4 linked regions of the Homo sapiens genome follow. The protein of the gene in region 3 purifies or fractionates together with the protein of the main gene of each other region. This does not show direct contact. Each region holds a gene or a part of one and is shown on either strand. Other genes may lie near its edges.

Evidence for each region. Proteins that work in one complex are often made in the same cells at the same time.
Region 1: the proteins of TPTE (region 3) and ATP2B1 purify together in Homo sapiens (affinity purification with mass spectrometry; 2 studies listed by BioGRID and IntAct, with this or other methods). This does not show direct contact.
Region 2: the proteins of TPTE (region 3) and AMFR purify together in Homo sapiens (affinity purification with mass spectrometry; 2 studies listed by BioGRID and IntAct, with this or other methods). This does not show direct contact.
Region 4: the proteins of TPTE (region 3) and SEC63 purify together in Homo sapiens (affinity purification with mass spectrometry, with the first as the bait; 2 studies listed by BioGRID). This does not show direct contact.

The regions. Positions count from the first base shown.
Region 1 is NC_000012.12:89,618,339-89,621,838, reverse strand, and holds part of ATP2B1 (plasma membrane calcium-transporting ATPase 1), read left to right. Parts: intron 1-47; coding exon 48-290; intron 291-1,598; coding exon 1,599-1,840; intron 1,841-3,500. UniProt on the Homo sapiens protein: Catalyzes the hydrolysis of ATP coupled with the transport of calcium from the cytoplasm to the extracellular space thereby maintaining intracellular calcium homeostasis.
Region 2 is NC_000016.10:56,408,546-56,412,045, forward strand, and holds part of AMFR (E3 ubiquitin-protein ligase AMFR), read right to left. Parts: intron 1,044-3,500; coding exon 879-1,043; intron 1-878. UniProt on the Homo sapiens protein: E3 ubiquitin-protein ligase that mediates the polyubiquitination of lysine and cysteine residues on target proteins, such as CD3D, CYP3A4, CFTR, INSIG1, SOAT2/ACAT2 and APOB for proteasomal degradation.
Region 3 is NC_000021.9:10,520,167-10,524,382, forward strand, and holds the start of TPTE (putative tyrosine-protein phosphatase TPTE), read left to right. Parts: upstream 1-1,416; 5' UTR 1,417-1,528; intron 1,529-4,216.
Region 4 is NC_000006.12:107,951,709-107,955,208, forward strand, and holds part of SEC63 (translocation protein SEC63 homolog), read right to left. Parts: intron 1-3,500. UniProt on the Homo sapiens protein: Mediates cotranslational and post-translational transport of certain precursor polypeptides across endoplasmic reticulum (ER). Proposed to play an auxiliary role in recognition of precursors with short and apolar signal peptides.

The sequences.
Region 1 (3,500 bases), on a different chromosome or scaffold from region 3:
TGGTTTTATATGCAGCTTAACTAGTTTTTTTTTTTTGGTCACTGTAGAAAATGATGAAAGATAATAACTTAGTAAGGCATCTGGATGCTTGTGAAACCATGGGAAATGCTACAGCTATTTGTTCAGATAAAACAGGAACTTTGACAATGAACAGAATGACAGTCGTTCAAGCTTACATAAATGAAAAACATTATAAAAAGGTTCCTGAACCAGAAGCTATTCCACCAAATATTTTGTCCTATCTTGTAACAGGAATTTCTGTGAATTGTGCTTATACATCAAAAATATTGGTAAGGTTTTTGAAATAATTTATGAAAATTAATTTTTAAATCTATAATGATCAGACTATATGTAAGTCTTCAGACCACCATTACTGTATGTAAACTGAACTGTTAAGTTTTTAAAAGGCATATATTTATTTATATAATGGTTTTTAAATTTGTGTTATGAGTGAGGTCTGCTGATCAACATAAACATTGTTTGCTTACATTTTTCTCCTATATTTTGAATTTCCTGTGTTCAGAAACTCTCCAGCCTTATAACCAGAGCATGTATTTAATTTTAAATTCTTGTTAAGCTCATTTTTGAGAAAGATCAAACTGTCTTACTATAGGAGGTCAGCTCTCAACTTACAGAAAATTTTTAAGCCGATTTCAACTTAAAATAACATGTTTTATATATGGTTGCCATGTGTTCTGTTTGGTTTCTCAGTAGTTCCTACCTAAAAGGTGGTCCTTAGACCTTTTTAGAACTAATGCAGTAAAGTAATTCTAGACTTGTGCCACCATATAATAAAAAATTTTCAACTTACAAGTTTTAAAAATCTTATTTATAACAGAAAGAATGCGATGTTATGTTTGACTTAATCTCTTCTAGTGATTTATGGATGAAAATCATTAACAAAAATAATATTGCAAGCTGTTCATTAGGGAAAACATACATGAATTGGATGATTACATTGGAAAGTTATGGGATCTTGGTTCTAGATCTAGCTTTGCCTTTTACTAGCTGAAAGTCTGAGCTACCTTCTTTAATTACTGAGTAAAGATGATCACATCTGCCCTTAATACCATTGTGATAATTATGTAAAGTGGTATTTCTGAAGGCACTATGAAGGAATTGAAGCTTCTCACTGCATTTAAGAGAACAGTATTTTAATGAATGTACTTTTAAGCCATAAAAATTGGTAGATTTAATTTTGAATGATTTAGTATAAAAGTTAAGTGAAAACAGGAAAAGGAAATTAAAATTAAGTTCCACTCTGTATTAGGAACCAACTATAAACTTCATACATCTTATATCACTTAATTTTGGGGTCATAAGTGCTCCTATTTTACAGATGCTGAAGCCAAGGACCAAAGCAGTTGGGTAATTGTCAAATTTCACGTAGCTAGTAACTGGCAGGACTGAGATTAGAATCCATGTCATTCTCACCCCAGGCTCCTTTCTACCTTACTTTTCTATATCCTTCTTTAAAATGTTGATATTAGACAATTGCTTTGTAATTTTATTTTAGAATATCGCAGTCTGTTTTACATTATAAATTAAACGTTCTTAGAGAAACGAGATACTAGCTACTAAATGTTTTTCTCTTATAGCCACCAGAGAAAGAGGGTGGATTACCTCGTCACGTTGGTAATAAAACTGAATGTGCCTTGTTGGGACTTCTTTTGGATTTAAAACGGGATTATCAGGATGTTAGAAATGAAATACCAGAAGAAGCACTGTACAAAGTCTACACCTTCAATTCTGTTAGGAAGTCCATGAGTACTGTCCTGAAAAATTCAGATGGAAGTTATCGAATATTCAGCAAGGGTGCATCTGAGATAATTCTGAAAAAGTAAGAGTAAAATGCTTGGATGAATAAATTGCTGACTATAGTTGCTTTATGGAGTATCTACTGTGTTGTTATTGTTGTTGTCTTTTTGTGAACATCAGGCATTTGATAGGACCTCAGAGTTTTTTAGCATATTTTATGGTATCCAGATATTTGCCCCTGCTATTCTGCCATTTTCACACTCTAGCTTCTCTTATTTCTTAGCATTTTGTTATAGGGAAAATAAGCTCATTACATTCAATCTGGTATGTTTAATGAAGTATACTTTGATGTTTATTTTTAGAAGTCGATTTACTTGTTATTTAATATGCAGAATCTTGAAAAGCCTCCTGGGAAGAAAATCAAGTTTATGTCTTTCTTTCTTTCTTTTTTTTTTTTTTTTTATTTGTTTAAGGTGGAGTTTCCCTGTATCACCCAGGCTGGAGTGCAGTGGCGCGATCTCAGCTCACTTCACCCTCCGCCCCTGGGTTCAAGGGATTCTCCTGCCTCAGCCTCCCAAGTAACTGGGATTACAGGCACCTGCCACCACGCCTGGCTAATTTTTGTATTTTTAGTAGAGTCAGGGTTTCACCATGTTGGCCAGGCTGGTCTTGAACTCCTGACCTCAAGTAATCTGCCTGTGTCGGCCTCCCAAAGTGCTGGGATTACAGACGTGAGTCACTGCACCTGGCCTCAAGTTTAGATCTTCAACGCTCATTGTGGTTACTGGACTCTGAATGTGATAAGAGAATTATGAAGTAATTTTTAGAATAGCAAAGCATAAAAGCTGGATCTTGGAAATTCCCCATTTATATCAAAATGAGATTTATCATGTTTATGCTGCTGCAGTGTCGTATTTAAATATCTCCTGTCATTTTGAATACTAATTTTTCTTACTGTCCTTTTACAGATCAGTAGCTTTAATTTTGTTATTACATGTTCACATATAATTTCCCTGATGTTTATTTGTTATTAAAGGTGGTGAAATTATTTTAGTTTCTTTAATTTCATTAAAGAAGTAGAGAACTGGTTAAAAAAAAATACTGGTTAAGAGCAAGTTGGGAAAATTGGAACTCATTTGAAATTATAATATTTAAAATATTAAAGTAAATGTTTAAGATATACTTTTAATTTGCTTACATGTGGATTATAAGCCAGTATTAATGAACACTTTACAATTAGTTTAAGAGACAAATATATAAATAAATAACTGAAGGCAGCATATAATAAATTGGTACAAAGTTTTTGGGTGAGAGATCACACTGTAGGGATGTGGCATTTAAGATAGATTTTGGTATGAAATGAGAACTTCGAGGTGGGGAAACCACAGCAGAGGAAAGGAGATGAGAATATGCAGGTCATACTGGGGAGGGGAATATCTGGTTGTATAGTTCAGCTGAATAGTGATGGGCTTTTGTGGCACACAGGCCATATACAGCTTTCTTCTTGCCACAGTACACTCAGTTACCTGATTTCATTGAAAAGGTTAGAAATCTGTTTCAACCCTGGCTTGCTGGGTAGTAGATAGATGGTTTAGGAGAGAATTTTTTTTAGTCAAAACTGATCAGGCATTGACTCTTTCTCTGCAACTAACTAGCTTCTGGATATGGGGCAGATTTTTCCCTTACTTCCATTTTTCTCATCTGAGAAAGCGGGTGATGACCACCAACTCTGTGGCACTTAA
Region 2 (3,500 bases), on a different chromosome or scaffold from region 3:
AAATGCAATCCAGGCACAGGTTTACCACTACTACAACGTGATGTCAGCATTATGCAAGGAGAGGCAACAGTCTGAAAAGAAGGCCTAGAGCTGCAACTCCTGAGGTCACAGGCGGAGATTAAAAAAAACAGTTTGGGAGGTTAGAAGCTCCTGTTTGTGACTTCAAATGAGGGTTGAATGTGAAAGAAATAAAGGCTGTGAGAGTGAGATTAACTCAAACCAAGGTGCAAGGTCCATGTGGACTGGGTAAAGACAGGGAAAAACAAGGCCCTGGAGCGGGTTTAACTGAGGGGCAGCACTGTAGATGCACATTTATCTGGGACTCATGAGACTACTTCAGGTCACTAATGGGTTGAAGGTTCACTCATACAGCTATGATCTGAAACCAAGTGACAGATCTTGTACCAGACATAAAATGATTCACTTCGCAAACAAGGAAGCTGAGGGAGCTAATTCAGTCCTGGCCCGGGGTGGAAATAGTATAAACTACTCAGAAAGAAGAGCTCCACGAACCAGAGTAAGCTGGGAGAGACAGAAGGAGACTAGAACAGAAAATATCTAGAAAAGACCAGATTTTATTGTTTATGTATCAAGGTTTCCTTGCACTGTGAACAAAACAGTCTGCATAGGTGAAGTGACCCCATGTTAGCAGTAAGTAAACACTATGGGGTTGGGAAGAAAGCTCCCCAGGAGACAACGATTCTGCATCTCTTGGCTGCTGTAGAAAGTTCTTCAAGAAACAGGCAATGGGGGCCTGATCTAGAAGTCTTCCCAGAAGAGCTACCCTGACCATGCCTGCTGTGGCTCATTCACATTACACAATTCAAAGTTGGCAAACGTGGTGACTAAGCAAGCAAAAAGCTTGGCTAAAAACTCACATATTCAAATCGATCCTTGCAGAGCTGAACCATCAGGTGCAGAAAGACAAGTCCGGCAAACCAGAGGCACCACATGACCACCTCTTCCACTGTCTGGACATTCAGCACACCAAAGATGAAAATGAACTTGTAGAAAATAAAATTCCAAAATTTGTCTTTGAGATGCTAAAAAAGAAAAATGTTTATGAAGGTGAGTACCATCACACCTACCCCATTTGAGGGAAGTTACCATAACAAAAGCCGGCTTCTATGGAAGATATATTCTGCACTTGGCTTTCTAATACTTGTCCTCAAGAAAACAGAAAAAAAAAAAAAAAAAAAAAAAGCAGCCATCTGAAGAATGGAGGTAAGACACCCAGAAACTAATCTGTAAACTTTGGACTATAACCCTAAATCAATTATGGAATGTTAGCTATTCAAAGGATAGCGATATTAGTTTAGTAACTTATATATTAAGAAATAGGCCAGGCGCAGTGGCTCATATCTGTAACCCCAGCACTTTTGGAGGCTGAGGTGGGTAGACAGCTTGAGCTCAAGAGTTTGAGATGAGCCTCGGTAACATGGGGAAACCCCATCTCTACCAAAAAAAAAAATACAAAAATTAGCTGGGAATGGTGGTGCACACCTGTAGTCCCACCTACTCAGGAGGCTAAGGTGGGAGGATTGCTTGAGCCCAGGAGGTCAAGGCTACAGTGAGCCATCATCATGCCACTGCACTCCAGCCTGGGTGACAGAGCAAGACCTTCTCTCAAAAAAAAGAAAAAAATGCTTACATTTTTAATGCACAATGAAAAAGAATGGCAAGGGCTATCATTTTTACTACTTCTACCTTCCAGATTCTTACACAATAGAAAAGATTAGACTTTGTAAAAAAAATTCTTCAAATTAAAAAATAACACAACACAACCACTTGCCAGCCCATAATAAAGGCGGCATAAAAAGTACAAAGAAAATGAAAAATGCTGCCTTAACATTTTTATGAATTTTCTTGTCTTTTCCCTATGTACAAAACACATTACTTTTTGTACAATGCTTTCTTTCACCTATTGTATTGTTAGAACCTTAACAATGTCAATGAATATTCTCTGAATATACCAATATACCGTTTCAATGGCTAAAGATGGACACTGAAACTGTTTTAAAATTTTCACCACGCAAAAAAAACATTATAATGAGGGCCGGGCGTGGTGGCTCATGCACGAAATCCCAGCATTTTGGGTGGCCAGGGCAGGCGGATCACTTGAGCCCAGGAGTTCGAGACCAGCCTGGGTAACATGGCAAAATCCTGTCTCTACTAAAAATACAAAAATTAGCTGAGCATGGTGGCACAAGCCTGTAATCCCAGCTACTTGGGAGGCTGAGGCATTAGAATTGCTTGAACCTGGGAGGTCGAGGTTGCAGGGAGCCATGATCATGCCACTGCACTCCAGCCTGGGCAACAGAGCAAGACTCTGTCTCAAAAAAAAAAAAAAATTGTGATGAATATTTTTGTATGTATCTTTGTATGAGTTACTTCAGCACTGTCAAATCAAAAATTGCAAAGATTTTTATGGTTTATAGTAAAATCTACCTAACTTCCAAAGCAGTCCTGTAAGTGTACATTCCCATGGGCAGTGTGTATGCATATTTGCTTCACTGTACTCTTTTACACAGAGGGCTTCCAGTTTTAACAATCTTCACTAACCCTGAAATAGGAGAGCAATAAGGAGGGTCTAGTTCCCCCACATGTTAAAATAGACTATCAAGCCGTCTAGGGGGGTCAGGGAGAACTGACTGAAGAGGATAAGAATGGAAGCATGATTCTAAGTATACTTTTTTTTTTTTTTTTAAAGAGACAGAGTCTCACTCTGTCATCCTGGCTGGAGTGCAGTGGCCCAGTAGTAGCTCACTGCAGCCCCAAACTCCTGCGCTCAAGCGATCCTCCCACCTCAGCCTTCTGAGTAGCTGGGATTACAGGCACATGACATCATGCCCGGCTAATGTTTTTTATATTTATATTTTGCAGAGATGGGGCCTCCCTCTGTTGCTAAGGCTGGTCGCAAACTCCTGGGCTCAAGTGATCCCACCTTGGTCTCCCAAAAGAATGCTTTTATATGTAATTTGGAACCATGTAAATGTTTCACAAATTCAAAAAATAAACACAAAAAAGCAAAATATACTACAAATTAACAACGTGACTCCTTAAAGATTTTGAGAACTTAAACACACTGTACTCTGACCAGATATCTTTTGTAGAGAACAAAATAAAGTGGAAAAAAATCATAGAGTATGCCCTAATTCTATCCATCAAAAGGGCAGAGACACCCTAGTGGTAATGAGCACACTCAGCCAGTATACAGCTTGGCTTCTAAATATCATTGCCCAATAACGTGAACTAGGAATCGTTGGTGAAATGTCTGTTTCCAGACCTGGTGCAGGGAAAGTACAAGGTGAACTTAGGACATTTTGTGCCCTGGTTTTGAATGACACTGCCACTTGGCTCTGCCATTTAGTTTCTGTGTGACCTTGGGAAAGTCACTTAACATCCCTGTGCTTTAGTTTCCTCATCCATACAATAGGTCTTATAATAACAGCATATACCTCATAGAATTGTTGGGGGAATTATACATAATATATGTGAAA
Region 3 (4,216 bases):
ACAAAGAAACATGGGTGGTGAGAATAGAAGGGAAAGGGTACATACATTTCAGAGAGATCAGAAGGATAGGATTTGTGAGATTTACTAAGTAGCTATAAGGGGTGAAGTAAAGAAAGCATAGAAGGAAAGTTGATTTCTAGCGTAGAACATTTTAATTTTACAAACATTTATTCCCTCTCCCAGCTCCATGGAAAAAGTACTCACTAATTGCTGTTGGTATATTAATTTGTATTACATTTTCTTCCCCACTTTCTCTTTTTTTTTTGAGACAGGGTCTGTGGCCCAGGCTGGAGTGCGGTGATGCCATCTTGGCTCACTGCAGCCTTGACCTCCCCGGGATCAAGAGATCCTTCCACCTCAGCCTCCTGAGTAGCTGGGACCATGTGTGCCAGCCACCATGCCCAGCTAATTATTATTTTTTTTTTTGAGACGGAGTCTCACTCTGTCCCCCAGGCTGGAGTGCAGTGGCGCAATCTCAGCTCACTGCAGCCTCCGCTCCCTGATTCATGCCATTCTCCTGCCTCAACCTCCCAAGTAGCTAGGACTACAGGCACCTGCCACCACGCCCGGCTAATTTTTTTTGTATTTTTAGTAGAGAGAAGGTTTCACTGTGTTAGCCAGGATGGTCTGGAACTCCTGACCTCGTGATCCGCCCGCCTCGGCCTCCAAAATGCTGGGATTACAGGCGTGAGCCACCGTGCCCAGCCCTATGCCCAGCTAATTTTTATATTTTTCGTAGAGACAGGGTTTCGCTGTATTGCCCAGGCTGGTCTTGAACTCTCGGGTTTAGGTGAGCGCCTTGGCCCCCGAAAGTGCTGGGATTATAGGCATGAGCCACTGTGCCTGGTTTCCCTTTCAAAAGAGATTTTGGGTGTTTCGTGTCACTGTATCCACGCCGCGTGCGGTCTCTTGTGCGTGGCTTCTTTTCCTGAGCACGCACAGCTGCCTTCTAACCCGCGAGCAATGGCGTTAAGGTTTTTGTTTGTAATTCGGGGGTGACCCAGGGGTTCGGGCCGCGGGCCCCTCCCCTCGCCCAGGCACACCTTGCAGAGGAGGGGGCGGCGGGGACAGGACCCGGGTCTGTGCCTGCGCACACCCTCGCGGGCCAACCCCCTCCCCCCCCGCCCCGCCGGGTACCTGTCACGGCTACTGCCGCGGCGCGCGCCCGCCACGTTAAGCCGGATGGCGGGAGGAGGGGTGCGGGGAGGGTGGCACGGCGCGCGCGTGCGCGGGAGTCGCCGAGCAAGAACTGGTAGTGCGCGCGCTCGCCGCTCGCTCGCGTCCCGGAGGCGGAGTCTGCGGCGGCGGGCGGAACGGGGGCGCGCCTATGCTAGTCACGTGGGCGCTGGGGCGGGGCCGGGCGGCCGTTCAAGGCAGGGGGCGGGGCGTCTCCGAGCGGCGGGGCCAAGGGAGGGCACAACAGCTGCTACCTGAACAGTTTCTGACCCAACAGTTACCCAGCGCCGGACTCGCTGCGCCCCGGCGGCTCTAGGGACCCCCGGCGCCTACACTTAGCTCCGCGCCCGAGGTGAGCCCAGGCCCTAAGTCCTCCGGGCGGGGGTAGGGGTGGGGGACGCTCCTTTTTGTTGGGGGGGGGTCTTGGAGGCGCGAAGGCACTAGGCGCCTCGGCGGATGGCTGAACCCCTCGCCCGCGGCTCCCCGTGTCTTTTGGGGGGCCGGGTGCGGGCGCGGAATCCGGGAGGTGTCCGCACAAAAGGCCGAGAAAAACTCCGCGACGCCTCCCTCCCTCCCTCCGCCCTCCCCGTCCCCTCCTCTCCGCGCCCGCTCCTCCTCATTCAAACCCGGCCGGCCTGAGTGGTGTTAGCTCAGTCCCGGCCGCCGCCGCGTGAGGAAATGGCCTAGGAGCCGGAGCCGCAGGTAAAGGGGGCGCGCCCCCCGCCCGCGCCAGCCGGGGCGCCCGCCCGGTCCTGCGGAGGCTCCCGCGCCGCCCCCGAGGCGCCCGGCTCTCGTTGTCTTGTCCCCCCCCAGGATGACCTGAGTTCCCCGTGTCTGCTTTCTAGCCGCTCCTCTAGGGCGCCCCCTCCCCAGCTGGCTCCTGCGCTTCCGCCCACGGGAAGGTGCGGGCGATCCCGGGCTGCATCCGCTCTTGGCCGTCACACTCACGCTGCACGATTTAGAAGGGCTTGGGGTGCGGGGTTCCCTGAGTCTCCGCCGGGAGCGGGGGTCCGGGGGTCTGCGGGGGTGGGCGGTGGGGTGCTGTTCCGAAAAGTTGGGTCGCCCCGCGGGGCGGGTCTCCCAATTTGCCCAGTCGGCCCTTGGGGCGCGGGCGGAGGGGGGACGTCGGCGTAGGGTCCCCAGCGATGCCCCGGGAAGGGCTGGGACAAGTTGGAAACGGTCAAAACAATGCGTCTGGACGGGCAGCATTGTTTCTTATTGTAGTTTTAATCTGCATTTCTCTAATAGATAGTGATGATGACCAGTTTTTCATTTGCTTATTTGCCAGTTGCAAATCTCTATTAGTGAAGTATCTGTTCACGTATTTTGCCCGTTTTTTAAAAGTTGGGTTGTTTTCTTACAATTGAAGTTTATTTTTTCTTATACTCAAAATTTTAATTCGCACATAATAAATTGTACATATTTATGAGGTACAATGTGATGTTTCAGTACATTTTACATTGCATAATGATCAAATCATGGTAATTAGCATATTCATTGCCTTAAACATTTACCATGTCTTTGATGTAAGAATATTCAAAATCCTCTTTTCTAGCGAGAATATGAGTGTATTTTAAATGTTCATCTATTTGTTTTCTCACAATCCTATAAAATGATAGCTTGAGTCAATGAGTTATGCCCCCAAGTCCTATCAACCTTGTCTATTTTAGTGAAATTTAATATTGTTTAGAAAACACTAAGCAAACATAGTTATTCAGAGAGCATAACTGAGCCCTCTGGTTATTCTCTGTAACCCACAAAGGAAGCTGAACACTTGATGTAAACTTCTTCATCAGAGTAAATAATAATCCTCTCCATTACATACAAAAGAAAAAATAACTAGAGAGATAGTCTCTGCTCTGAGGTTATTATCCTGTGGTCTTTGGTTTTGGTACATTCTCCCCCACCCCATGCCCTTCTCCCTCATCTTTAATGAGTATCTGTATGTATGGCAGAACAGTATTTTTTTTATTATACTTTAAGTTTTAGGGTACATGTGCACAATGTGCAGGTTAGTTACATATGTAAACGTGTGACATGCTGGTGCGCTGCACCCACAAACTCCTCATCTAGCATTTGGTATATCTCCCAATGCTATCCCTCCCCCCTCCCCCCACCCCACAACAGTCCCCAGAGTGTGATGTTCCCCTTCCTGGGTCCACGTGTTCTCATTGTTCAGTTCCCACCTATGAGTGAGAATATGCAGTGTTTGGTTTTTTGTTCTTGCGATAGTTTACTGAGAATGATTTCCAATTTCATCCATGTCCCTACAAAGGACATGAACTCATCATTTTTTATGGCTGCATAGTATTCCATGGTGTATATGTGCCACATTTTCTTAATCCAGTCTATCATTGTTGGACATTTGGGTTGGTTCCAAGTCTTTGCTATTGTGAATAGTGCTGCAGTAAACATACGTGTGCATGTGTCTGTATAGCAGCATGATTTATAGTCCTTTGGGTATATACCCAGTAATGGGATGGCTGGGTCAAATGGTATTTCTAGTTCTAGATCCCTGAGGAATCGCCACACTGACTTCCACCATGGTTGAACTAGTTTACAGTCCCACCAACAGTGTAAAAGTGTTCCTATTTCTCCACATCCTCTCCAGCACCTGTTGTTTCCTGACTTTTTAATGATTGCCATTTTCAAAGAATAGTATGTTTTTAAGTCTGTGCAGTCTTGGGCCAAGCTCGTTCTATTCCCCATTCTACAAGAATCACAAGAGCGCTAGGATTCTGTTTGGGGTTGCCGTGGACACAGAGTTCTTACTACAGAACTGACTTATTCTCAATAGGAGGTAAAGACCTAGAGGTGAGGTCTCTGAGCAAGGGAGTCCCATCCCATCCTCTGCCCTCTCTGTTGGCTGTTATCCTCTCATCTTCATCAGGAGAATTAAAATCATGTAAAGTTTTGGCGGGGGAACTAGATGGTGGTCTCTGCGGCCCATAGACAGGAAAGTTTGCTTATACCCAGCTGGGGGGACCACTAATTGACATTCCTTTCCCCTCCCAGGGACCTTACAGAGTCCCCTTACCCT
Region 4 (3,500 bases), on a different chromosome or scaffold from region 3:
CGCGGTGGCTCAAGCCTGTAATCCCAGCACTTTGGGAGGCTGAGGCAGGCGGATCATGAGGTCAGGAGATCAAGACCATCCTGGCTAACCCCGTCTCTACTAAAAATACAAAAAATTAGCCAGGCGTGGTGGTGGGCGCCTGTGGTCCCAGATACTCGGGAGGCTGAGGCAGGAGAATGGGGTGAACCCAGGAGGCAGACCTTGCAGTGAGCTGAGACCGCGCCACTCCACTCCAGCTTGGGTGACAGAGCGAGACTCCATCTCAAAAAAAAAAAAAAAAAGTTCCCGAAGTGATTCTAATGTGTAGCCAGGGTTAAGAATCACTATGCCAAGGAAATCTAAGCCCTCCGTGTTATCATTGCATACAGAGCTTTTGTCCTTAATTGTCTGAAGAAATATTCATTTTATTCAGCCAATTTGCAAACCAAGAGAGTAAAACAAATAACTACTAAAAGGGGTATTAATTATAAGTACGCTTAGCTAAACATGTTAAGCAGAAATCAAGGCAAAAGTATTCCATTAATAATGTTTTAGATAACAGGTACGTTCAATTAACATGTCAAATATGCCAATAAACGAACTATTTCCATTTTTCAAACCGCAGACTTTACAAGCTGTGAAATGGTGCTATGCTTTCTGGTGTATTCAAGAGCCCACTAATTCCAAAACAGCCATGCTGAAACGACTGTCAACCTTAAAAATTGAAAGTCCCAAATGTGTTGCAGAAAACACACAAAAAAAAACCTCAATAAAGATTAGTTAAACTGGGCCGGGCACAGTGGCTCACAGCTGTAATCCCAGCACTTTGGGAGGCCGAGGTGGGCAGATCCCTTGAGGTCAGGAGTTGGAAACCAGCCTGGCCAACATGGTGAAACTCTGTCTCTACTAAAAATACAAAAATTAGCCGGGCGTAGTGGCAGGCACCTGTAATACCAGCTACTTGGGAGGCCGAGGTGGGAGAACTGCTTGAATCTGGGAGGTGGAGGTTGCAGTGAGCCAAGATCTTGCTATTGCACTGGAGCCTGGGCAACAGAGCGAGACTTCATGCCAAAACAAACAAAAAAAAAATTACTTAAACTGAACTTTAAGGTTGTGTAACTGCCAGAGCAAACCTTTTCATGCTTTCATGCACATGCTATCTCTGAAAATACTGTCAGAAGTCTGAAATTCAAACGCATGCCTACATTTTTGTATTTGGCTACTTAACTGTTTCACAGGAAAACTAAATAAACTAAGCCTCAAAAACAAGTATTAAAATATGCTGCTGTGGCCAGGGAACAGTGGCTCACGCCTGTAATCCCAGGACTTTGGGACGCCGAGGCAGGTGGATCAATTGAGGTCAGAAGTTCGAGACCAGCCTGGCCAACATGGTGAAACCCCATCTCTACTAAAAATACAAAAATAAGCCAGGCATGGTGGCTCGCGCCAGTTTTCCTAGCTACTCAGGAGGCTGAGGCACGAGAATCGTTTGAACACGGGAAGCAGAGGTTGCAGTGAGCCGAGATCACGCCACTGCACTTCAGCCTGGGTGACAGAGCAAGGCTCCATCTCAAAAAATAAAAATACTTATATATGCTGTTGTGTTTCCCCAAAACTGTACTACGGGGGTCCTCATCTTTTACTTAAAATCCTTAAGAACAAATGTGCTTCAGAATTTTTCAGATTTGCCCCGTCCGGGAAGGAGGTGGGGGGGTCAGCCCCCCGCCCGGCCAGCCGCCCCGTCCGGGAGGTGAGGGGCACCTCTGCCCGGCCGCCCCTACTGGGAAGTGAGGAGCCCCTCTGCCCGGCCAGCCGCCCCGTCCGGGAGGGAGGTGGGGGGTCAGCCCCCCGCCCGGCCAGCCGCCCCGTCCGGGAGGGAGGTGGGGGGGTCAGCCCCCCGCCCGGCCAGCCGCCCCGTCCGGGAGGTGAGGGGCGCCTCTGCCCGGCCGCCCCTACTGGCAAGTGAGGAGCCCCTCTGCCCGGCCAGCCGCCCCGTCCGGGAGGGAGGTGGGGGGTCAGCCCCCTGCCCGGCCAGCCGCCCTGTCCGGGAGGGAGGTGGGGGGTTCAGCCCCCCGCCCGGCCAGCCGCCCCGTCCGGGAGGGAGGTGGGGGTGTGAGCCCCCCGCCCGGCCAGCCGCCCCGTCCGGGAGGGAGGTGGGGGGGTCAGCCCCCCGCCCGGCCAGCCGCCCGGTCCGGGAGGTGAGGGGCGCCTCTCCTCAGCCGCCCCTACTGGGACGTGAGGAGCCCCTCTGCCCGGCCACCACCCCGTCTGGGAGGTGTACCCAACAGCTCATTGAGAACGGGCCATGATGACAATGGCGGTTTTGTGGAATAGAAAGAGGGGAAAGGCAGGGAAAGGATTGGGAAATCGGATGGTTGCCATGTCTGTGTAGAAAGAGGTAGACACGGGAGACTTTTCATTTTGTTCTGTACTAGGAAAAATTCTTCTGCCTTGGGATCCTGTTGATCGGTGACCCTACCCCCAACCCTGTGCTCTCTGAAACATGTGCTGTGTCCACTCAGGGTTAAATGGATTAAGGGCGGTGCAAGATGTGCTTTGTTAAACAGATGCTTGAAGGCAGCATGCTCGTTAAGAGTCATCACCACTCCCTAATCTCAAGTACCCAGGGACACAAACACTGCGGAAGGCCGCAGGGTCCTCTGCCTAGGAAAACCAGAGACCTCTGTTCACTTGTTTATCTGCTGACCCTCCCTCCACTATTGTCCTATGACCCTGCCAAATCCCCCTCTGTGAGAAACACCCAAGAATGATCAATTAAAAAAAAAAAAAAAATCAAAAAAAAAAAAAAAGAATTTTTCAGATTTTAGAAAAGTAACACAGCGTTTACACTCAAACAGACCCTATGGGGTCTAAAGTGCACCAATAACCAAACAAATTAATATTCCAAGACAGAACATAACTATTTATTAAGTGAGATAAAGATTATTCAGTAGCCTCCTGTCAGTACAAGTCGGCAAATTATTTTGCAGCAAACTTCTGAAAAAAGTTCCTTATTCAGAGCTTTGAATGAGGCAGTAATTCAAGATTTCTCTTTCATATTCAAGATACTGCAACTGGGCTGCAGAAAAAAAGTCACTATGATGAAAACATCCTTTTACTACAACTGTAATTCCACAGAAACAACTCAAGTTATTAGGGTAAATCCAAGAAAAAAGTCCAAGTGGTGCCCAACAATTTTCATAATGATTAGAATAGCATTTAAGTATTCACCTTAATTTTCATAACACAATTTTGAGCAAGAGCAAACAAATACATCAAAATATGCATATGGACTAAGGCAAGCCTGAAGCAGAGAGCCGGATGTAAAACGGGCAAACTGACACCCATAATAGTTCACCTAACTTTCTATCTAGCAGTATGGAAACCACACAGGGCTCTGAAGCTAAGCGACCAATGTTCTAATCCCAGTTCAACCATACAGGAAAATTACTTACATGCTCTACCCTCAGTTTCTTTACCTGTAAATGGAGATAATAATAGAACCTACCTCACTGCATTGC